Linked DNA regions of Homo sapiens: all the other regions are linked to region 1. Evidence: fine-mapped expression QTL. A gene starts in region 1. Each other region holds a variant in brackets. All regions are shown on one strand. Distances are between the middles of the regions.

Evidence for each region. PIP is the estimated chance that this variant, and not a neighbour inherited with it, causes the effect.
Region 2: its variant is fine-mapped to the expression of CCNY in whole blood (INTERVAL, PIP 0.92).
Region 3: its variant is fine-mapped to the expression of CCNY in whole blood (TOPMed, PIP 0.99).

Annotation. Positions count from the first base shown.
Region 1 is chr10:35,331,220-35,339,567 of GRCh38, reverse strand. CCNY (cyclin Y) reads right to left here and starts at 3,059. Exons shown (of 10, transcript NM_145012.6): 1 at 2,361-3,059. The coding sequence starts at 2,514. CCNY-AS1 (CCNY antisense RNA 1) reads left to right here and starts at 3,144. Exons shown (of 4, transcript NR_186477.1): 1 at 3,144-3,348; 2 at 3,492-3,640. RefSeq lists a silencer at 2,694-3,433 and an enhancer at 7,033-7,327.
Region 2 is chr10:35,577,253-35,585,600 of GRCh38, reverse strand. It overlaps LOC107984221 (a long non-coding RNA gene), which reads right to left and starts at 4,154. Exons shown (of 3, transcript XR_001747422.2): 1 at 3,749-4,154; 2 at 1,899-2,019; 3 at 1-1,566. The variant T/A (reference allele first, on the strand shown) is at 3,363.
Region 3 is chr10:35,558,566-35,566,913 of GRCh38, reverse strand. It overlaps CCNY (cyclin Y), which reads right to left. Exons shown (of 10, transcript NM_145012.6): 9 at 729-891. Among named protein-coding and RNA genes, the nearest start is that of GJD4, 43 kb to the left of the region's middle. RefSeq lists enhancers at 1,863-1,942, 2,213-2,322, 2,383-2,492. The variant TA/A (reference allele first, on the strand shown) is at 4,035.

The sequences.
Region 1 (8,348 bases):
ATATATACTAGAGTCAATGATTCTTAAAATGTAGTTTTAAAATGTTTACTAATAACCTAACAATCAATATAACTCAGTTCAAATACATACAGATATAGATGAGCAAATACAGACATATAGATGTATATAGTGTGTATATATATACACTCTATTTAATTAAAACCTGTTCTCTTCTCTCAGCCTCTAATAATGAATTTCTACCAAAAATGTCCCTGAACGGCAGGTAACACTTCCAAGATTTGCCCAGCCAGCAATTCTCAGGCCTACCTGCATCTCAGAATCACCTTGGAGAGATTTAAACATATTAATGGCAATGTCCAGTACTAGATTTCTGGTTTAACTGAAACCAATGTTGAGAACTGCTGGCTGGGTCAATGCTAGAAGTATTATTTATTGAATTTGAGAGACAGAAGGTGAATTAATATTTCGGGGTTTAAACTAGCATAATCATATGAACTGGGATCTGGGATGAGAGGGCACTCCACAGCCTAGATTGGAAACCTGCCCTATACTCTCTCAAACTATCCTGAATCTGCAAAAGAGTCTTCCAAACATTCTCTCAAAAATTCCTGATGACTGAAACTTAAGATTTCTTTGAAATGAAAGAACACACAATATCATTTCACTGTACTCTGGCAAAATTGTACTGAGCCTTAGTGCCAAATACCTGGTTACACTTATTTTTTCCACCTTATTTCCTTACAATAGTCTATAATAACTGTATGCAGCCTGGCTCTAAGAAATGTAAATCTTCTTTTTTTTCTTTTTTGATCCATCATTCAAAACAAAGCCTCCGCTAGATACTGCACAACATAAAAAGGAAATTTACTGCACATCATAAAGAAGACATTATTTCCAAATGTTTTCGCCTGTCAACATAGTATAGGACTGGGTAATGGCTTTCTGTAATAAACTCATTCATTTATTCCTCCCTTTAAAGTACAATACTTACTGTTTATTATATGCTAGACTTTTCTTTCAGGTGCTAGAGGCTGTGAAAGTGATCAAGACCGATCTGGCCTTCATCCTTCTAGATGCCTTTAAATGCATAAATTTAAGAAGAAAGTATGGCTGTAGTTCAAAGACATCTAAGCGTATGTTTAAAATAATGGAAATCTAAAATAACAACACTAGACACGTCATATGGAACCATAATTTACTAAGCGCGTACTAGAAACCAGACGTTGTGTTACTCCCTTTATACATGGCACTCATTTAATAAAGATGCTCTCCTAAAAAGATTAAACTACCATTTAGAAGAAATTACACGAAGACAAACGAGAAAAATCTTTCCTTTAGCAAAGTTTAAATGTGGCCTTTCCACAGTGGAGAGAATCTTCCATCCTAAAGTGGACAGGAACGAATTATGAAGTTGTGTTCATTCATTCACACAAAAATTTCTTCATATTAGTTCAACCAGATTAACTATGAGAAGATGTTTGGGTTAAAAAAATCACCTTGTCATAAAAAGATACTTCCAATTTCAAATCTTTTCAGTTGAAAATTCTATAAACTATATTTTAAGCATGATGCATAAATATCCCTCTGTCGTTATCACTGAGCAACAGTGCTAATAAATATGTTGCCAAACCAATAAAATAAATAAAACATTACTGCGTGCAGTAATTAGTCTTAGCTTTTTTTCTTTTTGCAAACTCCAGACCAACCAAAAGTCACCTGAATAAATCAGAAATTCATAGGACTGCAATTCGGGCCCATGCAAAAACTGAGACTTAACCCAAAGGTGTCTGACAATCTTTTAAAGAGCATTCTCGGGAGAAGCTATTTGACTAATCCTGGAACCGCCACTCAAAAAAATCATTTTTTAAAAAAAACGGTAGAATGGGAACGGGGGAAGTGGAGTCCATTTGTAAGGTTCCGGGGAACTGACTCAACATGGTTCTCCAACTCGAGGTTGGAGACACCGGGATTCCAAAATGGGAATCCACTCACTTCGCTTTTATAGGACAAACGCGTGCACAACTTGGCTTCGGGCTGCATTCAGGTAGTGCCGGGAACCCCGAGCTCCCGGGCCGCCCCCACCCAGCTCTGGCCGCTCCATTAAGGACGAGGGCCGGCTCCTGTCACCTCGCGACCCACGCGCACACACCCGCCCTAGGCCCGCCGTGCTCGATGCCGCGGGCCTGCAAAGTTTCCGCGGCCGCTCACTTGGGGGTAACCAGCGAGGGGTACGCCCAGAGGCTGCGGGGCCCCGGGCGCCTAGGCTGCGCGGGCGAAGCCCCGGTTATGCACGGGTCGCCGAGACCGGCTGGGCAAGCAAGAGCAGCCGGGCCGCCCCGACGTTGGCTGTGCGACTGTTGCCGCGGGGGCGGGTAGGGGGCTCGGCGGGCCGCACTCACCGTCTATGTTCTCCCGGTCGCTGATGTGCTGCAGGTTGCAGCCCGTGTCCTCGCGGCTCAGGTCCGTGTCTGGCCGGTAGGACTCCAGCCGGGAGTGGGCATTCCTCCGGAGCTTGGGACTGGACGACACGCAGCACGAGGTAGTGTTCCCCATCTTCGGCGGCCCCCCGACTCCTGCTGCTATCCTGTTCTCCCAGTCCCCGGGAGCGGGGCGCGGGTGGACGCGGGGCGCGGGCGGCGGGGGCGTGTGGGGAGGCCCGCCCGCTCGCCGCCACGGGAGGGGGCGGAACGGCGGCCGGCCGCCGGGTCAGCAGCGGCGGCGGCGGCGGGGCCTCGCCATGGGCGGCGGCGGCGGCGGCGGCGACGAGCGGGCGACGGCCCCGGCTCCCCCTCGGCCGGCCTATCCGCGGCGGAGGAGCGCTCGGGTCCGCGCGACTGCGGCCGCCGCGCCTACCTCACCCCGCCGCGGCCATGGCGGGCGGCGCCGCGCAGGCCGCCTCCCCCCCGCGCTTCCCCAGTTGGTGTCCGCTTCCCCGGCGGCTGCGGCGACGGCGGCCGCCTCGGCAAGAGGTTCCGGTTCAAGCCGGGGGCACGCGTGTCCGCGCCGGACGGCGGGACTAGCCGACGAGCGGGCGGGCAGCGGGCGTGGGCGCAGCCCCCGGACTCCTCGCGGCGCGGTGCGGCGCGGCCAGGGAGGATGCTGGCGGCCCTCCCTCGCCAGCGGCGCCCGCCCTCGCCGCAGCCCCCGCCCCGCCCCGTCACCGCCCCTTCCCTCTGCCCTGGAAGCAGATCGGCGGCCGCGGGGAGGTTCGGGGCGGCGCAGCCCCGCGCGGTTGTGGGATCGCTCCCGGGGGCCGCTCCTCTCTCGGGCACTGGGGTCGCGGGAGACGTCGTCGGGAGCTCGGTTTCTGGAGGCCCTTCCCCACCCGGCCTCTGCCTCCTCCACTCCCCCGGGCTGGACGGAACGGGGCCCAGCGCGGGATGCGAGGTGCGTCCCCGGGGCCCGCAGCGGGCGGGAGCGCAGCCAGGGCCCGGTCGGGGACGCAGGCCCAGGGCGCTGAGGCTGCACCTGCCTCTCCGAAACCGGGCTGGCTCTTTTTGTCTTTTTATTTTTCTAATTTATTTTTTTAGAGGTATGATTTCGCTCTGTCGCCCAGGCTGGAGGGCAGTGGCGCAATCTCGGCTCACTGCAGCCTCGAACTCCTAGGCTGAAGCGATTCTCCCGCCTCAGCCTCCAAAGTAGCCGGTACTACAGGCGCGCGCCACCACGCCTGGCTAAGGTGTGTGTGTGTGTGTGTGTGTGTGTGTCTCCAAAGTAGCGAGGACTACGGGTGTGTGTGTGTGTGTGTGTCTCCAAAGTAGCGAGGACTACAGGCTCCCGCCACTACGCCAGGCTAAGGTAGGGTGTGTATGTGTGTTAACTTTTTGTAGAGATGGGATCTCCCTTTGTAACACGGGCGCCCGCCACTAAGCCAGGCTAAGGTGGTGAATGTGTGTGTGTGTGTGTGTTAACTTTTTGTAGAGATGGGATCTCGCTTCGTAACCCGGGCTGGTATCGAACTCCTGTCTTCAAGGAATCCTCCCGTCTGGACTCCTCCCATGGGATTACGGGCATGAGCCACGGCACCTGGCTATTTTTTTTTTCTAAGCATTTAAATAAGCTGGGGCTTGATTTGGGAGTTTTCTATTGTATTTTGAGCTTTGCCGAGGACTTGATAGTGACCTTGCTTTAAGCTGTGAAATAAATCTTGGGGTCCCAGAGCTATTTTAATATTGAATTCGCTGTGGAGTTGTTTTGAGTTCCTTGGAGGTTAACATGAGATAGAAAACTAAGTTAACACAACTCATCGACTGCCCTTGCTTTGCTTTGCTTTGCTTTTAGAATGCCATCGGGTTTTGTCATGTTGGGAACAAGTTAACTTAGGCCAGTTGACTAAGATCAAGGTATGTGAACATGCCTGGCTGGGAGAGAAGTAGAGTAAATGTTGGTTCGCATTCCCTCCCGACGCCCACAATGCCAGCCATCCCTGACTTTTCTTGCCTTTATTGGGAAGAATATAAGGTGGCAGAAACAAACTTCCCACCCTTTTTCCAAATATTTACTGAAGGAGTCTTGAGGAGAGTCTTGTGGGGTGGGGGGGTGGGGGTGGGAGCTGGGAATGTTTTTGAACTAGTTCTTGAAAAAAAAACTAGTACAATAGTACAACTGTCTTAATTTTATATATGAGGAAACTGAGGCCCAGAGATGAAATCATGCCTTGATTTATGCAGACCTCAGTACCTGTTCGTGACAAATCCAGTTACTAAAAGGTAAGAGAAGGAATAAGGGACTTGATATTTATCTAGCATCAGCAATGTGTGGACATCGTGTGAACGGCTTTATAAACATTTCATTTAATTCTCTACATCTAGCCATTTTTTAACCTGTGCTTTCCCTCCCTCTCAAAGTACTGTTTATACATTTATTAGTCCATATTTTAAACGCTCCATGCTCTCAACTGTATTAATGCTATTTGTTAGGATAAGTGGCAGATGTCCATGGAAAATAAGTGGCTGCAAAGTGGTAATGCTGACCAGATGAGAAAAGAAGTGTAAAAGGGAAGTTCTAAAGAATTAAAGCCCTGGAGAGGGTGGGTAGACAACAACAGTCCAAAATAGTGCTCTTCATTGAGGCTGTGTAGATTTTCCTGCTTCCTGGGAAAACTGGGGCATATTTACACTTGCATGTGTGTATTCAGATTGTCTGGGGCTATGGAGTTTGGGTCAGATTGCTGAACCCGTGGGAGAGAAGTTCCCTTGTTGTCTGTTGTTGTCTGTTCTGATTGCTGCTTTGTAATTTGGGCCACATATGAAAGTCAGCATCCAGTCATTGGACCATAGGTGTGTGGCATATCTACTCAGATGCATTAAGCTATTTTTATTTCATTATAAAATGTATAACATTTACATTCAAATTATGGTTTGAAGGGCTTAAGAGGAGAAAGAGACAGTGGCACTAAGGTGACAGCATGGCTGGCTGCATGCTTCCTGTCCAAGAAGGTCACTGGGCAGTGTTAACTGGGAAGAGCATCTGGAGGATGAGAGATCAGTGTAGCCACATACCCTTAACAAAGGGTGGTACAGCCTCTGGTCTGCCAGGATTTTTGTGCCCCGCCCCCCTCCCCCTCTTTCCCTATCTCCTCTTTGACATTTCCACCATATTCCCCTTAGGTATGTACCTGTTTGGACTTTAATTTAGAGTGTAACTTTTGGTCAAGAATCCTGGAGAGAAAAGACGGGTACTAAAGCCTCGCTAGTGATTTACCTGGGTGCCGACCCCCACAACTCATCCACCCTACATGCATACTTCAAACTCCTCCAGGCAGATACTCCCTGCCTGACACACAGTGACACTTTGGGAAAAATTGCAGAACAGTAACCAACTCTGAGCAGATAAATGTGATGTCAAAATGATAGTAATGAGAGATGTCGTTCGTTGAAAGCCTGCTAGCTGCCATGCACTATACTATTTCTTACATCTAAATCTGATTAAGTTATACCCCATTTTATAAATAGACACTTTGATAAGTAAACCTATCTAAGATCAAAATACTGAGAAATGTCCTAATTGGGGATTTGAACCTGGTTCTAATTCCAAAGTCCAAGCTACATCCACCCCAACCTCCTACCTCCTATCTCCAAGACTTTGTGAGTAAAAAAACAAGTGTCACTTCTCTCCTTCTCTTTTTTCTGTCCTAAAGGAAGCTGGGAGCTAACCACTTAGGACTAGTACTAATCTTTCAGAGAAAGGGATGAGGGGAGCCTTGTTATTTCTGTGGGGTTCAGCTCTCAGACCAGAGTAAGACAGGCAACAAGGTTGAGGAGTAGCCATATGCAGAAATAACCTGTGTATCTAGCCACAGGATCTCCAACACTGTGTCACTCGGGAATCAAAATACAGAGACAGTTCCTCAATAGAGTGTGGATCTAGCCCAGAATGTGGACAAGGGGAGTGGAGAAGGGGAGAGGTACACACTGAGCATTGTAACAAGGCCTGTCCTCAAGCTTGAGGAGGATTAGGAAGATGGCTTGAGTCTGGGAGTAGGAGGCTGCAGTGAGCTATGATTGTACCACTGTACCCCAGCCTAGGTGACAGAGTGAGACCCTGTCTCTTAAAAGAAAAAAAAAATTGACCTGGATCTACTCATACCCACCCTGGTCTTTGAGCAGAAAGAATCATTTGGGAATTATTTTGTCTCATCTTTCTCCATGATCACTGTTGAAGAATTTGGTCACTGTAACCAGGTAAATATAAAACTCAGGTGGGCCGGGCGCGGTGGTTCACACCTGTAATCCCAGCAGTTTGGGAGGCTGAGGTGAGTGGATCACGAGGTCAGGAGATCAAGACCATCCTGGCTAACACAGTGAAACCCTGTCTCTATTAAAAATACAAAAAATTAGCCAGGCGTGGTGGTGGGCGCCTATAGCTCCAGCTGCTCGGGAGGCTGAGGCAGGAGAATGGTGTGAACCCGGGAGGTGGAGGTTGCAGTGAGCCGAGATCGTGCCACTGCACTCCAGCCTGGGTGACAGAGCAAGACTCCGTCTCAAAAAAAACTCAGATGAACTATAGCTAAGTCAGTGCTCTTGACACTTTTTTAGCAATAGTAGCTTTGTTTCTCACAGAAAAAACAAAATTTTCTGTGGAACCACACTATTTAAAACATAAGCAATATTAGTATCAACTTGTATAATTTATAGATCTACTGATAAAAACAATCAAGAATAGTCTACCTTAATTGAATCAGGAGGAGATAACTGCAGTCTTACATCAGCCATACTCGTATCCATGAAATATGAGTCAGTCATTTGCACAACTCCCTGAGTCACCTTCTGGAACACAGAAAACACTGAGCCAAGTTAGCCCAGGACCTGAACCTTTTGTGGAAAGGAAAATCTGTAGTGTCTCCTCAGAGTATGGCTGCCCTTTCACCTGGTAGTCAGTTTCTCATGACGGTTACTCGAGCATTTATAAGGCAGTTGTGAAATAACCAAGACATTCTGTGTGTTGTGCTACTGATGCTCCTCCTGTCACCGACCTCCTCTCCAAATGAGGCCTGCCTTTTGTCCTTGGTAGTAGGCAGTCCACAGTGTAACCAGCTACAGGGGAAGTATTTACTTTGATAGCCACTTGACCTTGATCAAGTCAGGTGACTCATTTCTGGATAACATTTTTGAGAGTATACTGAGCCAGGCACCTTGAGGATACGAAAGTGGATTATAGTTTCCATTCTGGAGAAACTCACAGTCCAGTAAGTTAAACAATCACAAGAACAAGTTTCCAGCAATGAGAGTGATTACAGCCACTGAGTGGTGAAATCTGAGAAATGCAAAGCCTGCCGCCTATAAATACCTACATTTATCGCCTGGGCATATACCTAAAATTCCACCATGAGAAATATATTTATATGAAATTAGAAACTACCCAGAAATTGTGCGTCCAAATAAAAATTCCCACAAGAAATAAGGATGGCTAATAGTTTTAAGTAGTAGTGTCAAGTCTTTTGGACCAGAGTAACTGCCAGGGACGTTGTGTTGAGGATTCTGAGGTCATGTTCCAGCTTAGCCGAGAAGGGAGCCACCATGAGGGAACGAGTGAGGGAGGGTAGCACTTGTGCCCCATATTTTTTCCTAAGTAAATCATTTGTTGATGGAATGCATGATGAAACAGGGACAGCCAGGGTCTCTGGCATCTGGGAGAAAGCCCACTTGGAAACTGATTTATCTACCTCACCACTGCAAGTTCACCATTTGTCCCCAGACTAAATGGCCTTAGGAAGCCCAGGCTCTGTCTTGTCGAACTCTACCTTCTTTATCCTTCCATACTTTTCAAGAAGAGAAATGGTATATATATGTGGGATCCTTGAGAACTAGGATGTACCTGTGAGCAGGCAAAGTGTAGCATCTAGCAGGGTCAGGCATAAGTTGGAAGTGAGAGAGGTGGCTACTGTG
Region 2 (8,348 bases), 250 kb before region 1:
GGATGCAGGAAGGTACCTGCAGGTCAGCAGCGCAGCAGGGTGCAGTATCCGGGTTAGGGCTGTTTCTGAAGGAGAGGCGTGGCAGGCTCCGAAGGGATGCGAGGGTCGCCAGGCTGTGATGGGCAGGAAGCAGCACATGCAATGCCCTAAAGCTGGGAGTGAACCTGCGGGGTACCGGGCACTGTGTGCAATGCAGGACAAACAAAGCCTGGGCGGGAACAAGGTGAGGGTGGAAGCAGGGCCCTGTTTGGTCCTGGGACAGTGTGGGTTCTACCCGATCGACAATGGAAAGTCACTGAAGGTCTCCATTGGAGGTGACACAGTCGGATCTGCATTTGAGGAAGATGGCATCACCTGTTGTGAAGAGAAGGACCCAGAAGGCGGCAGCGGTGGAGGTGAGTGCCCCTCAGGCTGCCAGGGATGGAACCCGGGGGTTCTGAGGAGGCCAAGTCCAGAGCGATGGGCATGAGTGAGGGTGGAGACAACCCAAGGGGAGGGAGCCTCCTGGCCCAGGCACCCAGGCAGATGGGGTCCCTCATTAAGAAGGGACAGGTGTGGGACACAGGGCCAGGGAGTGGGAGGAAGGGTGGCCTCCGTCAAGTAGAGGTGTCTGACAGACGGATGTGAGGACAGCCTGAGCTAGAGACAAAGCCCTGGAAATACTCGAGTAGATGAACTGCTGTTTAATGACCTGTCCATTGGAGGCATTTCGTGGTTCTTCAAAGGTAAGCTTCCATCTTTATCACTTGTATCACAGGCTCTCACCAAACGCAACTTCCCTTCTTGCAGATGCAGTGGGACCTTGATTTCTCACGAGGTGTCAGCTTTTTTGTGGAAGGTCTTGTTGAAGTGGAGATGTCCATTAACCTAACCCACCATAACACATCTTTTCCACACCTTTGATTTTCCGGTCCCACCGCCTCCCTTCATTCCTCTTTCATCCTCTTCTCTCCAAATGCAGCTGCCCTGTTTGCACCCTCAGCTACCTGTTCAAGTCTTTCCAAACAAGCATGAGGTTACGCACCTTGGGCAGCACGACAGGTTGCTACATCAACTATTTTTATCATCCTCTTTCTGCCATAGGAAGCTGGAGCAATCTAGTCTTCGGGCCTGGGCCCTCCTGGGTTTTGGTGAAGAGCCATCCTCCGTGGGTGGCAATTGGTTTGCCTGGGTTGGCTTCCTCCAAGAAAAGCCAGAGGGCTGGAATCATTCAGACCTCCTGAATCCACAGTGAGTTGACTCTCACAAATGAGTGAGCTCATGTAAAGCACCCTCATCTGTAACATTCTACCATCTCCCCCAATCGCCAAGGAATGCAGGTCCTGAGCATCCCGCCTGGGGCTCGGGCTCTAAAACAATAAACTGCAATGCTGGGAAGTTGTGCGCTGTGCCCAGTTGCTCCGGTTATTTCAGGACATTTTCCTGCTCACAGGCCTGATTGCCAGTACGTTTCCGTAGGGGCACCCGGTTGTCCGTCAACTCAACTTGTTTACTCTGACAAGTTTCATGTACAGGCAGAATGTGATTGGGAAAGACGTCTTCATGTCATTGAATACCGAGACTCTTCTAATTTTTATAACAGATTACACAGAGAACAAGATGCATAAGTATATGAAAATATTATTCACAAAATCAAAGATATTTCAACAGCTAGAGACGTTCAAATTTCCCCAGGATTTGGTTCAAAGAGATTGATCATTGACATTCAGGGGAAGCTGCATAAAGGCCATCCCTGATCAGGGAAAGTAGCAGAATGAGGTTGGTGTTGCACTGAATTAGGCTGATTGGGTCCCATGGATGTATTTTTCCTGTGGGCCAAATTTGTATTCTCTGTGAAGTAAAAAAAACAGGCCCGGGGAAATGAAAATGGCATGGGGAAGATTTAGAGCCTGTCTTACCTTGTTCACATTAAATGTTTTTATTGTAGCAGAGTCCTTGGAGCTTATATTTGTGACACAATTATAGCGTTACAAAAGTTTCAGGGAGGAATACGTCAAGCAATTTGCAAAAGTAAAGGTCCTGTAGTGGAGATAATAAAATACAGAACTTCAGTATACTCTCTTGTGAGCAATCTAATAAAATACAGAACTTCAGTATACTCTCTTGTGAGCAATCTCTGCTGCTGACTAGTGAGTAAAAAGATGAAATGTTGTAATTGGACCTAAAAACCTCAAGCACCAGCTAAGCACGGTGGCTCATGTCTGTAATCCTAGCACTTTGGGAGGCCAAGATGGGAGGATTGCTTGAACTCAGGAATTGGAGACCAGCCTCCAGCATAGCAAGATCCTGTCTCTACTAATATTCAAACAAATTAGCCAGTCGTGGTGGCACATGCCTGTAGTCCCAGCTACTTGCGGGGCGGGGCTGAGGAGGGAGGATCGCTCAAGCCTGGGAAGTCAAGGCTGCAGTAAGCCCTGCATTCCAGCCTGGGTGACAGAGAGAGACCCTGTCTCAAAAGAAAAAGATGTCAACAAAAAAACCTCAAGCACCCACAAATGTACAATTTTATGTGCAAAATGCCTTGTCCACTACCAACTGGTGGGCCTTTCAAAGTCCCATTTATTGGAGCATGAAGTCAAGGATGAAGAAGGCACTGTGGATTAACAAACCAGACACCTAATGGGGCAATGGATAGGAAAATATTTTAATGGGTATTTAGTACTAGGTTCTCTAATAAATAGTCCAGTGACTAGTGGAAAAATCCTTTTATATGTCCTTCATTCCTTTCAAGCAAGGAATTTGCACTCACAAGATTTTTTTAAAGCAGTATATTCTTTCTTTTTTTTTTTTTTCAGTCTCACTCTGTCACCCAGGCTAGAGTGTAGTGGCGTGATCTCAGCCCACTGCAACCTCCACCTCCCAGGTTCAAGCCATTCTCCTGCTTCAGCCTCCCTGGTAGCTGGGCTTACAGGTGCCCACCACCGCACCCCACTAATTTTTGTATTTTTAGTAGAGATGGGGTTTCACCATGTTGACCAGGCTGGTCTCGAACTCCTGACTTCAGGTGATCCACCTGTCTCTAAAGCAATATTTTCTTGATTCATCTCTGTCATCAATAAATAAGTCACTAAGATTTCTAGGGAAGCAAAATTAATAGATAGAATCTGAAAATCTAAGAAATCACATGGAGTTTGTTCTTTCTCCCAAAGATTTTTTTTTTTTTTTTTTTTTTTTTTTTTTGAGACAGAGTCTTGCTGTGTCGCCCAGGCTGGAGTGCAGTGGCATGATCTTGGCTCACTGCAAGCTCCGCCTCCCGGGTTCACACCATTCTCCCGCCTCAGCTTCCCGAGTAGCTGGGACTACAGGCACCCACCACCATGCCCGGCTAATTTTTTGTATTTTTAGTAGACACAGGGTTTCAC[T/A]GTGTTAGCCAGGATGGTCTCAATCTCCTGACCTTGTGATCCGCCCACCTTGGCCTCCCAAAGTGCTGGGATTACAAGCATGAACCACCATGCCCGGCCCCCCAGACCTCTTTTTAACAATGGACCATCTCATTTCACTCCACTGGGAGGTAATAGGGTAGTGTGATTGTGAGTGTGACTTCAGAATCAGACCAGCATGGGTTCTAATCCTGGCTCTGCCACCCTCAAGTTACTTTCTCTTCCCCTAAGTCCTTTCAGCTGAAAAGTGGGAAATGCAGATGCCCACTGCACAGAATAACGGCAGGAATTTTTAAATAATGTAATGAGTGGTTCTTGCATTTGTTTCTTAGAATCGTAAAGTCTGGTCAGGGTGTGTCAGGGGTTACCATGTGGCTGGAACTGGCTCTCCACAGTTTCTTCCACTGACACAGATCTGCATGCCTCTGACCTGTGTATACTGGGGTTCCACGGAGGAGCTCATTGTATGACAGGCCTGTGCTGCTGGAAGTGGACAACGATAACGACTGGTTAACACCATGAGAAGGTGGCCCCTGGCCATTTCTACCTCTGCACGACTGTAACTCTTAAAGGGTCTTCCTTATACTGAGCAGAAATCCATGTCTCAGAAACTTTTACTGATTCCTGGCTCTAGTTCTGCCCTCTCCATTAACAGAGTAACATCCATCTTTCAGCAGTCCTTCCAAGTTAACGTTTCACAGCCCCATCCACCACAGGAGAAGCTGGGGCCACTCCTCCATTAGTTTTTTTGTTTGTTTGTTTGTATTGAGATGGAGTCTTGCTCTGTCTCCCAGGCTGGAGTGCAATGGCTCAATCTCAGCTCACTGCAACCTCCGCCTCCCTGGTTCAAGCCATTCTCCTGCCTCAGCCCCCCAAGTAGCTGGGATTACAGGTGCCCGCCACCACACCCAGCTAATTTTTGTATTTTTAGGAGAGACGGGGTTTCACCATGTTGGCTGGTTATTTGGCCATAGAAACAAGTGACCATCAGAACCAGTTTAAAACCCATTCTCCTTGATCAACGAGGATTTCACATCAGCAGCCAAGGGCAGGCAATCCGCAAGTCTTAAGTAACCACACTGACGCAGGCAAATGCCAACCAATCCCTAAATGCTCTGGGCACTGAAATCCCTGAACTTCATGCTTTCCAAGGCCCTGTGTGAGATCAGCTCTTCCCTTTGCTCAGAGACTGTCTCCTGCTTAGCAAGCAAGGAAGTCGGCATTCTGTTCCAAATGGGGAAGGGTAGGCTCTGCCTTTGATGGGAGGCACACAACTTAGATTGTAAGGAATAAGCAGGGTACCACCAGAAAATGACATGCTGCCAAAGAAATTGAATCAGGAGGGCTGACGGTGAGCCATTATGGGGTGAGACAGAGGGACTGGTGCTACTTTAGATGAGCTACCCAGAAAAGGCCAATGAAGACACAACTTTTGAGATAAGACATGAGCAATGAGGAAATCCATACTGAGACATTCAATGAAAGTCACGGGCTGGGCAGGTTTTGAGATGGAAAAAGCACCTCAAACCTCAAAATGAGAAATTGCAAGCTCAGAAAAATAAAACTCTAGTCCAGCAGAACCTGCTAAAGTAGGGGCCACGGCCTCAGAGAGGGGACAGGTGGTGACCATGCATGAAATCCCTGAGTTTCCAGATTCTCTGAAGCTCTTAAACTGAGACCTGGCGGGAAGGGGATGTCACCTGGGGGCCAGGCAGCAATTCTGAAATAGTAACACATAGATTTCTGCAAAATGCCATTAATAAGCCAGACTTACCATCTGTGTGGGTTCTATATCCAGCAACAATAAAAATAACAGGATCCCCAGACACCATTCTTGCTTGTAGGTGCATTATTTGCTAAGTACTTTTTAAAGCTAAAATGTTGCAGCTGTCTCTTCTCCAAAGACGTGCATGGAGATTGATGTGACAGGTGTGGCCTGCCACGCTCTGTTTAGGGGCAGCTGTAGATTAACTGCAAGTCCTGTTTGGTTGCTGATGACGTGACCTTTGCCAAGTCACCTAGCCTTTCTGCACTTCGGCTCTATCTGAAAAGCGATGGGGATAGAACATCTGTTCTACCTACATCAGGGAGTCGCAGAGGAGATGAAGAAGAAAGCTTTGAAAATTGGAAGTGCCTCAAAATATGAGATCAATACTATGTTTCTGGAAAAATGTTACATTTAAAGTACATATTTGTAGACCGAATGACACTGTACACACTTCCTTAGTTGACGGCCAGAGTCTCCTGTATTTGTGACACGCATCTCTACTAAGACTGCTCTTTCCCTAACACTGTCCTCGGCAATGCTGAGTGGGTGGGCTCCGGACTCTTGGTTCATGTGCTTCCTGCTGGAATTCCTTTCCTTTCTACATATCCAGATTCTACAACACAACCAGTTCAAGCTCTGCCTCTTTCCTGAAGCCGCCTCATAGCTCTACTTTTTATTTTTAATTGAAAAACAATTGTATATATTTATGGGGTACAATATGTTCTGATACATGTTCTACATTGTGGAATGATTAAATCAAGCTACTGAGCAAATCCATCACTTCACGTACTTATTTTTGTGTGTGGTGAAAACAACTGAAATCTACAACTTTGGAATACACAATGCATTTATGATGGTAGCTGTTCGTTCAATAGATCACTAGATCTTACTCCTCCTAAGTGAAACTTTGTACCCATTGGTGCAGCACTCCCCTTTGTTCATCCTCCTCCTTTCCTATCCTCTGATAATCACCACTCTACTCTACTTCTGAGTTCAGCTTTTTTTAGATTCTACATGTAAGTGAAATGATTGGATATTTGTTTCTGTGCCTGGCTTATTTCACATAGTGATGGACACCTAGGTTGCCTCCCTGTCTGGGCTATTGTGAACAGTGTTTTAATGGGAGTGCAGCTGTCTCTCCAGCACACTGATTTCGATTCCTCTGGATATATAGCCAGAAGTGGGATTGCCGGATCATATGGCAATTCTATTTTTAGTCTTTTTAGGAGCCTCCATATTGTCTTCTAGAATGGCTGTAATAATTCGCCTTTGCAACAGCAGTGCAAAGGGGCTCCCTTTTCTCCATACCATTCTCACAGGTGTGATGAATTCTGATAGTTTTCCAGGTGTTTCTTTTAGGTTTTCTTGGTAGCAACCACATTAGCTTCAAGGTTACTGAACACGAGATAAATGACTGTAGAACCCATGAGTGCCTGCAGGAAGAAATGATGTTCAAGAACCACTTTATCTACATTTCTATACCTCCAGCTTTCCTCCTTTTGCTCAAGATGTGACTATGGCTTGATCCCTGTCCTGATCTTCTGGACCTGTGCCTCACCCCATCCACTCACTCACTGGACAGGGCTGGCATGTATTGGGTCCTGGGGTTCAGCAGGGAATGGGTCATACAAGGCTCCTGCCTCCTGAGTCAGCATTCTAGGGGCAGGAGGGCTTGCCACGCTCTGTGGTTGTAGGGGTAGCTGTAGATTAACTGCAAGATCTGTTTGGTTGCTGATGACGCGACCTTGACAAGTCACTTAGCCTTTCTGCACTTCAGCTCTACTGAAAAGCGATGGGGACAGAACAGCTGTTCTACCTACATCAGGGAGTTGCAGGAGAAAGCTTTGAAAATTGGAAGTACCTCCAAATATGAGATCAGTGCTTTGTTTCTGGGAAAATGCCACACCAGACAATAATCAAGTGAACAAGAAAAACAGCAGACAGTGGGGAGAGCCAGGCAAGGCTTATGGTTGGGCAACACAAGAGCAACAAGGAGGGCCCTTCCCTGGGGGGTGGGCTGTGGTGAGAGGAGGCCTGTAAGGACATGGCATTGAAGCAGACGTCTGTTCTACCTACATCAGGGAGTCACAGAGGAGATGAAGAAGAAAGCTTTGAAAATTGGAAGTACCTCAAAATATGAGATCAGTACTGTGTTTCTGGAAAAATGTTACGTTTAAGGCACATATTTGTAGACTGAATGACACTGTTCAAACTTCCTTAGTTGACGGCCAGAGTCTCCCATATTTGGATACGCATCTCTGCTGAGACTGCTCTTTCTCTAACACTGCCCTCAGCTCTACTGAAAAGCGATGGGGATAGAACATCTGTTCTACCTACAACAGGGAGTTGCAGAAGAAAGCTTTCACAATTGGAAGTCCTCCAAATATGAGATCAGTGCTTTGTTTCCGGAAAAATGCCACACCAGACAATAATCAAGTGAACAAGAAAAACAGCAGATAGTGAGAAGAGTGAGCAATGCAGGTATCAGGGGGAAGCACGCCAGACAGAAACAACAATGCAGAAAAAGTTCCTGAATCGAAACAGAACTTGGTATACTTAGAGAACACACTAGACAAAAGGGAGAGTAGGAACGAGAGATGTGACATTTGTCAGGTCCTGTGATTTCCCACTCAGGAACATGGCACGTCTCTTTCGTTCAGGTCTTTCGTGATGACTGCCGGCAAAGTTTGGCATTTTCTTTTTGAGATGGAGTCTTGCTCTGTGGCCAGGCTGGAGTACAGTGGTGTGATATTGGCTCACTGCAACCTCTGCCTCCTGGGTCCAAGTAATTCACCTGCCTCAGCCTCCCAAGTAGCTGGGATTACAGGTGTGCACCACCATGCTCAGCTAACTTTTTGTATTTTTAATAGAGATGGGGTTTCACCATGTTGGTCGGGCTGGCCTCGAACTCCTGACCTCAAGTGATCTGCCCACCTTGGCCTCCCAAAGTGCTGGGATTACAGGTGTGAGCCACTGCGCCCGGCCGGCATTTTCTCTATTTAGGAATTGCACCTGTGTCGGTTTCCTAGGGCTGCCATAACAAATTTCCACATGCTGGATGGCTCACAACAACAGAAATTTATTCTGTCACTGTTTTGGGGGCTGGAAGTCCAAAATCAAGGTGCCAGCAGGGCCATATGCTCTGGAAACTCCAGAGAAGGATTCTTCCTTGCCTCTTCCAGCTTCTGCTGGCCCTGGCC
Region 3 (8,348 bases), 230 kb before region 1:
AATGAAACCCCATCCATCTCTACTAAAAATACAAAAAAAAATTAGCTGGGCGTGGTGGTGCACACCTGTAGTCCCAGCTACTAGGGAGGCTGAGGCAGAAGAATCACTTGAACCCAGGGGGCGGAGTTGTGATGAGCTGAGATCGTGCCACTGCACTCCAGCCTGGGTAACACAGCAAGACTCCATCTCAAAAAAACCCAAAAAAACAAAAAACCTTTGCTTATTAAGTATAAAGTGATATTAAACTGGTTATTAAAAATATGAAGTGGCTGGCCAGGCACAGCGGCTCACGTCTGTAATCCCAGCACTTTGGGAGGCCAAGGCAGGCAGATCACCTGAGGTCAGGAGTTTGAGACCAGCCTGGCCAACATTGTGAAACCCCATCTCTACTAAAAATACAAAAAATCAACCGGGTGTGGTGGCAGGCACCTGTAATCCCAGCTACTTGAGAGGCTGAAGCAGAATTGCTTTAACTCGGGAGGCAGAGACTGCAATGGGCCAAGATCGCACCACTGTACTCCAGGCTGGGTGACAGAGCGAGACTCCGTCTCAAAGAAAAAAGAAGCAGAACAAATCATAATCAACTGCCCAGCTATATATCCTAGTAGCTCATCTTTATTTTACATCATGTAGTGGGGGAAATGATCAATGTGACCACATGCATCTCTGGTACTCAGATGATGTATTGGCAACACTGCACCACAAAACGCTGTTTTAAACCATCTTACCTCAAGCTTGTGAGCCCTCTCCCTGCTCAGGGGCTCCAAGGGAAAGCTCAGGTTGTTCGCTTCTGCCAGAGAACGAAGATCAAAATAATACTTGGCATAGACACTGGAAGGAACATTGATGTTGAACTGCAGCAATTCAAGAAACTGTCGCTCTAGCTCGTTCCTGCAAAGCAAAGACAAAAATAGCCTATGCTTAGCTGCCACACCAGGCCACGTGGCCTGCCAAGGCAAGTTGCTGGAGACCAGACTCCAGAAAACTGCATCCTCCAGGAAGACCAGTGATCTAAGTAAATGTCTGGTTAGACCACCATATTGGGATTAAAAGCCAAATCCACTTGATCTGGTGCCCAGAAGGATGAGGACTGGTTAACTGGGATCATCACCAGGAAGCGTTTCAGGGCGAATCACTTCACTGAGATCTAACACACACACAGCAGGCTCTGGCTGCAGGTCTCCGTGAGGACAGGCTGCTAACAAAGGGTGGATGCAGCAGCCAAGAGCTGCCACGTGGAGTCCAGTGAGGGCCCTTCCGCAGGGGCCCAGAGGAAAACACTCAGCCTCTGCAGACCTAGAGGACATTGGCTTCCTCGGTGGCCCCTCCCTACCTCCAGGGAGAAAAGAAGGGAGGAACTGTGTAGGGGCTTTCTTAGGCAAAAGGCAGGGATTATGGGGGGAGGGTGTCCAGTCTCTGCCTCAGTCTCTTAAAAAGAGAACTCACAAGCCGGGAAGAATGGAAGCAGTAGTTTCCACACTTGAGCACGCACCCCATCACCTGGTGGGCTTGTTAGAACAGACAGGGGGCTCCACCTTCACACTGTGGGGATCAGTAGGTCTGCAGTGGGGCCTGAGAATGTGCATTTCTAAGGAACTCCCAGATGATGGTGAGGCTGAGGCTCTTGCCCCGGGCCCACACTCTGAGAACCACTCAACTAAAAAGGTAGGTTGGGAGAGGAGGTGCTAAGATCCACCCTGCCAACCCATCTACATGTTGATGGAATGCTGGGAGAAATTCAAAAACTTCTACTTTAAGAACTTCTCATGTCAGCTATCTTTCAAATTAGGTTTATTTCTAGATAGTTCCTCTGGGTGGGGGGAACCTTCTCAGTGAGGGAACTATCTGTGGAGCACTGGTCCTGGGTCATGCACTCAGATTCAGCACGTTCTCCCCAGGAAGCCCCCAGGGGTGCCCACCCACAGGGTGCCCACCCACTGCACACCCTCCAGGAAACCTCCTGTCCTTGCCCACACTATGCAGCATGTGGCTGCTGAACTCAGCCTCTTGGGCTGTTCTCCTCATAGTCAGGAAGTGCAACATCTGCTTTTGCATGCCTGGCCCCCAGCACATGATCTCAGAAGGCTTCCCACAGCAGTGAGAGCTGAACTGAGGTGAGGGAAGCATGGAGCTCTGGCGGAGAGGAACCAGGGCTGAGGAGGGGGTGTTTCAGGCAGAGTGGGTCCCCTCCAACCTGCTGCAGGCAGCCAAAACACACAGTCACCATTTCCTGTGAGTGAAGCCAGGGCCCTAGTGCAGGGCCTCACCCTCCTGACCCTGATCCCAGCCTCGGCATTCTAAGTCATGTCCTGCCAACTCTGCTGAACGCTGAGGGTCTGGGTCTGAGCCTCACATGCAGGCACCATCCTGTCCTGAGTGATGTCCCGAGACCCCTATGGCTGTTCCCGGTGACTCATAGCACTCAGCTATGAAGGACTGAGGAGGGCTCCACACCAGCTCAAGTTGCTGTGACAAAGGACAAGAACAGTAAGGAGGCGGGTGGGGAGGCTGGGGCTGAGCAAGGCCAGTGGCTCTGGGGAGACATGAAGCTGCTGGGGAAAGGAGCACTGGGACCTGTGGGCAGGCGGCAAGGAAGGAGGCCCGAGGAAGGCCCATTCCGGTCTCTTCATCAGATGAAGAGCGTCACTGCTTGTTTCCACACAGCCTCGTGAAAAGAGTGATAACAAGCTCCAAATGTATTTACTGTACTAAATTTCATAGTTTTAAGAATTTAGGCTGGGTGTGGTCACTCACACCTGTAATCTCAGCACTTTGGGAGGCTGAGGCGGGTGGATCACCTGAGTTTAGGAGTTTGAGACCAGCCTGGCCAACAGGGTGAAACCTCGTCTCTACTAAAAATACAAAGAAAATTAGCCGGGCATGGTGGCACATGCCTATAATTCAAGCTACTCAGGAGGCTGAGGCAGGGGAATCACTTGAACCCGGGAGGTGGAGGTTGAAGCGAGCCAAGATTGCGCCATTGCACTCCAGCCTGGACTACAAGAGCGAAACTCTGTCTCAAAAAAAAAAAAAAAAAATTAGTCAGGCATGGTGGTGGGCACCTCTAATATCCCAGCTACTCAGGAGGGTGAGGCAGGAGAATCACTTGAACCCAGGAGGCGGAAGTTGCAGTGAGCCGAGATTGCCCCACTGCACTCCAGCCTGGGCAACGAGAGCGAAACTCTGTCCCAAAAATAAATAAATAAATAATAATTTACTTTGATTTGGGATAATTTTTACTTAAAACAACTTTTATTTATGCTTCATTTAAATGAGATTTAATAAGAGATCATCCTGTGAAATACTGGAATCCAGGTAAGACTTCAACAAAACGAAAGCGTCAGAGGCCCTGCTAAGGCCAGAACTGTCAAACGTCAAAGGAGCAAATCCCAAGTGAACCTGGGAGCTGCCATGGACACACCGCCGTCTGGTGGTCAACAGGCGTCACTGCAAAGCGTATTCTCCCAATAGTAAGAAGAAAAGTCTAAGAGAACAGCCTGATAATCCTGCCCAAAATGATATACAGACACCATGGTTCCAGATGGAGGCAGACACTACGAGCAAAGTCAAGAGGAAGCTGCTTTTGAACAAGGCGGTATTTTCCCAGGGTTCCCTGGAAAACAGAACAACCTTCTCCAAGCTTGAGTTTCTGGTTAAGCTTTGGGAAAATAGATTTTAGAGCTGTTGTATTTTCAAAAAATGAATTTTTTTCTAAAGATTTAGAAAATAAAAATAATTTCCAAAACTTGAATTTCCAAACTGCAGCAGCACATCTTTTACAGGGACACTGACAGCTTGCTATGTGATAAATTATCAGAAAACTAACGTGATGCCAAGAATGGGCCTGATGGATTTACTATCTGCATTTAGATAACTATGAAGAAACAGTTTTGGTGTAAAACGTTGTAAGAAATATATTCAAGTCGACCAACAAAAACCACATTTCAGAAATATTTGTCACACTAGATCAACACTGTATAAAAACCCAATTTGGTACAATTCAGCAACTTGAAAATAGAACTCTAAAATGATGT[TA/A]AAAAGAGCTGTTTTAATCATCTAATATGCTGCCTACTTTTCTAGAAACTAGGGTCACTTCCCAAAAGAAGGAGAAACAAAGTCTTGAAAAGGTATCTGCATAGCCACACTTACAGCCTCCACTTACTAGCCCAATGTGGAGGTAACCCAAGTGTCCATGGGTGGATGAGTGGATAAACAAAATGGGACACAGACCCCCAGTGAAGTATTATACAGCCCTAAAAAGAAAGGAAATTCAGACACACTACAACATGGATCAACCCTGAGGACATTATTGGCAAGTGAAATATGCTGGACACAGAAGGACACAGACTGTATGATCCCACTTGTGTGAGGTCCTGAAAGTAGTGAAGTTCACAGAGACAAAAAGTAGGACAGTGATCACCAGGAGCTGGAGGAAGGAGGAATGGCAAGTTAGTGTTTAACAGGGGGAGAGTTTCAGTTTGCGAAAATGAAGGGTTCTAGAGATGGATGGTGGTAATGGTTGCACAACAATGTAAATGTACTTAGTGCTACAGAAATGTATACTTAAAAATGGCTACAATCATAAATTTCATGCTACATACATTTTACTACAATTTAAAAACAAAACACCACCAGAAACCAGGTATCTACAGAGGAACTGAAGTTCTTTCTCTGTGACCTTCTGTGCCATGCAATGCTTGGACAAGTCACTTGATTTCTCCTTATTTGGATTTGTCTACACATGAAAATGACATTTACGGGAACAGTGCAAAACAAAAACAAGAAACAGACAAACCTCGAGGTGTAATTTTTTTTAACAGTATTTTTGCCTACAGAACTCTGCATGGTGAAATTTCACTGTCCTTTCCCCATCCACAGCGGTTGCCACTTCTTGCTCTAAGCTGGCCTGTGATGCTGTGACCACTGATTGTTGGTGAGAGTGGGAGAAAGGCTGGCCCTTGGCCCCATCTTCCCACATGAGGTCTGCCTGAAGCTAACATCTGACTGGTGCTGGTGACTATCCACATGGCCTGGTGCCCTGACTATTCTGCCTGCAAGTCTCAGTGACACTCGTCGTACAGTGTTCTTCAGCCTGCGCCCACAGATACGCAGCTGCACAGTCAGCTGCCTTCCAAGCCAGAACCCCTCTGTCCAAAGGTACATGGGGAGACTCCCAGTCAAGTTCTCACTGTTGGATAATTCTTGAGCAGGAGATTAGCCTATGGTCAAAAATACCAGGAAGGTCACTTCAGGAAGCTGGGACACAGGAGGCCAGGAAGAAGGGTACCTAGAAGAACAAGCACTACCAAAAACCCCATTTGAAAAGGTTTCCAGCTGAAACCTGTGAGCCCTCTCCCTGCTCAGGAGCTCCAAGGGAGAGCTCGGGTTGTTTGCCTCTGCCAGGAAACTGAGACCAGCTAACCACAGATTAACACACTGCTAAATGGCAAAAAGTTTAAAACAACGCGTACAGTATGGGCCCAGTTTTGTAAAAATAAAATCTATGTAAACACTGGGAAGTTCTATATAATAAAAATGTTAGCAATATTCTTTCTGAGTGATGGGATTATAGAAAAATGCAGCAGGGCAGCCCTTGATAGGATGGAGCCCACCCCAGGATATCTGAGACTTCTCCTGCCCAAACGCCTCCCACCCCACCCTCAGGCCCAAGCCACTGACTCTTTTCCCACTTGGGGATGAAAAAGAGGATTCTAGGATCTTGGGGACTTCCACAGCGTGCCAAGAAGGACAAGCTCCTGGCACGCACCTCCCTCATTCTGGGACACCCAAGTGGGATTTGTGGAAGGAACCCATTGTTCATCTAAGGTACTGCAGGTAGGGAGTGCAGCTTGGGTGGCTGTCCAGGCCCCTGTTCTACAGGCTGTGTCATCTCAGCTCTATTCCTGAAGTTATGCTGGGAAAACTCACCGGCAGTGCCTCTGCTCATCTTTACCTTGGTGCAGGGCCCCCAGCTTCCAGTGAGCCTTGTGCTACCTCCTCTCCCCATAAAGGGCTACCGAGGAGTCATGATTTTCCCTCAGCCATTCAGCTGAGTGATGTCCAATTCCACCAATTCCTGGGCTCACACGGTTTTACTGGGAAAGACTGAATGAAGTATTCATTTCTAAAAATTCTAATAGTAAATCTATTTTACTGTGCAGGTGCCACAAAATCACTTGGAGCCTCTAGCTCCACCAGCATCTATGTCCACAGATATCTCCAGCAGCTCCTAGAATGTAGATTTCATTCCTTCTTTTAATAAAGTTTACAGGGTGTATTAGTTTGCAAGAGCTGCTGTAATGAAAATGCTAGGGGCTTAAACAACGGGAATTTTTTCCCCACAGTTTGTGGCTGTAAGTCCAAGCTGTCAGCAGACTGGTATCTCCTGAGGCTGCTCTCCGTAGCTTGCAGGTGGCTGTCTGAGTCTCACATGCTCATCCTTCTGTCTGTTCCCTGTGTTCTGATCTCTTCTTCTTATAGGACACCTGTCATATTAGGTTAGGACCCACCCAAATGAACCAATGTTAATTTAATTAGGTCTTTAAAAACCTTATCTCCAGACATGGTTACATTCTCAAACACTAGGGGTTGGGAGGGCTTTGCATGTGAATTTGAGGGGGACAAAGTTCAGCCCCGCAACACTGCCTTCGTGCCCTTCAGAATTCATGTCCATCTTACATGCAGAACACACTCACCTCATCCTAACAGCCCCAAAGTCCTAATGCATTCCCGCTCCATCTCTAAGTCCCAAATCCTATCTAAATCTCATCTGAATCAGGTATGGGTGAAGATTGAGGTATGATTCATCCTAAGGCAAAATTCCTCTCCAGCTGTGACCCAGTGACCTGCTTCTAAAATACAATGGTGGCACAGGCATAGGACAGACATAGGACAGGCATCCCCTTTCCTTCCAAAAGAAAGAAAACTCAGAAAGAAAGAGGTCACAGTGTCCAGCAAGCCCGAAATCTAGCAGGGCAAGCTCCAGGGATTGAAGACTTAAGTCCTCTCTGCTGATGCGCCATCACCCACCCCCAGGTAGGCAGCCCTGCCTTGGCCTAACCCCCTGGAGCCAAGGAGGAAACAGCCTCACTCCAGGCTGTGCCTGCTGGGCCCATGGTGGCAGTGGCAGACCTGCTGGCCTCGGTACCATCTCAGGATCATTCACCCCTTTCCTTGGAGGATATCACAAGTCATGCCAGACAGTTCTGCTGGCCCGTGGAATGCCAGAGTACGACAGCCTTGCTTCACCTGTCCTGTCTCTGGGCCCTTTGGTGCAAGCCGGCAGCGCTTCTGCTGAGATGGCTGGCTGACTGGATCCATCTGTCACATCTGTAATCTCTTTAGCAAATGCTGTCCCAGCACCCTTGTGTTGCCTCCAGAGCACACTTTCCCATTTTTTTGCCATATGGATAGACTGAGATTAGAAGATTTGAGATTTCTAAATCTTCAGCTAGAAGATTTGGTTCCTTGTTACTAAATAATTCCTCCTCCTTCTGTTTCTCTCTCTCCTCTCACAGTATACTACGAGCAACAAGAGGGACTAGGCTGTGACTTCCACACTGTGCATGGAAATCTCCTTGGCTAAAACATCCACATTCATTTCTTAAACATTCCACTTTCCACAAAACACTAGAACGCTATTTGGTCAGGTCTTTGCCACTTTTTAACAAGGATCACCTTTCCTCCAGCTCCCAGGAACATGCTCCTCACTTCTTTCTGAGACCTCACCATAAGCACCTTGGACATTCATATTGCCAACAACATTCTGTTCATGATGACATGTGAATGCATCTAAAATGGTAGAGGCATTTTCTACAGCTGTCCTCTTTTCTGAGTCTTCACCAGAATCACCTTTAATGCCCACATTTCTACCAACAATCCCTTCAAGGCAGTCTTGGGTTTTTCTAATATGCACCTCAAAACTCCTCCTGCCTCTATTCCTTACCAACTTTCAAAGCCACTTCCACATTTTTAGGTATTTGCTACAGCAGCACCTCACTTCCCAGTACCAAAATCTGTATTAGTTGGCTAGGGCTACAGACTAGCACAGGTAACAAAGTCCCACAGACTGGGTGGCTTCAACAACAGAAATTTATTTTCTCACAATTCTAGAGGCTACTAGTCCAAGATCAAGGTGTTAGTGGGGTTGGTTTCTTCCGAGACCTCTCTCCTTGGCTTGCAGACGCTACCTTCTCTGTGTCCTCACATGGCCATCCCTCTGTGTTGTCTGTGTCCTAATCTCTTCTTATGAGGACATCAGACATACTGGATTAGGGCCCACCCTAATGACCCCATTTTAATTTAATTTCCTCTTTAAAAAATATATCTCCAAATATGGTCACATTCTG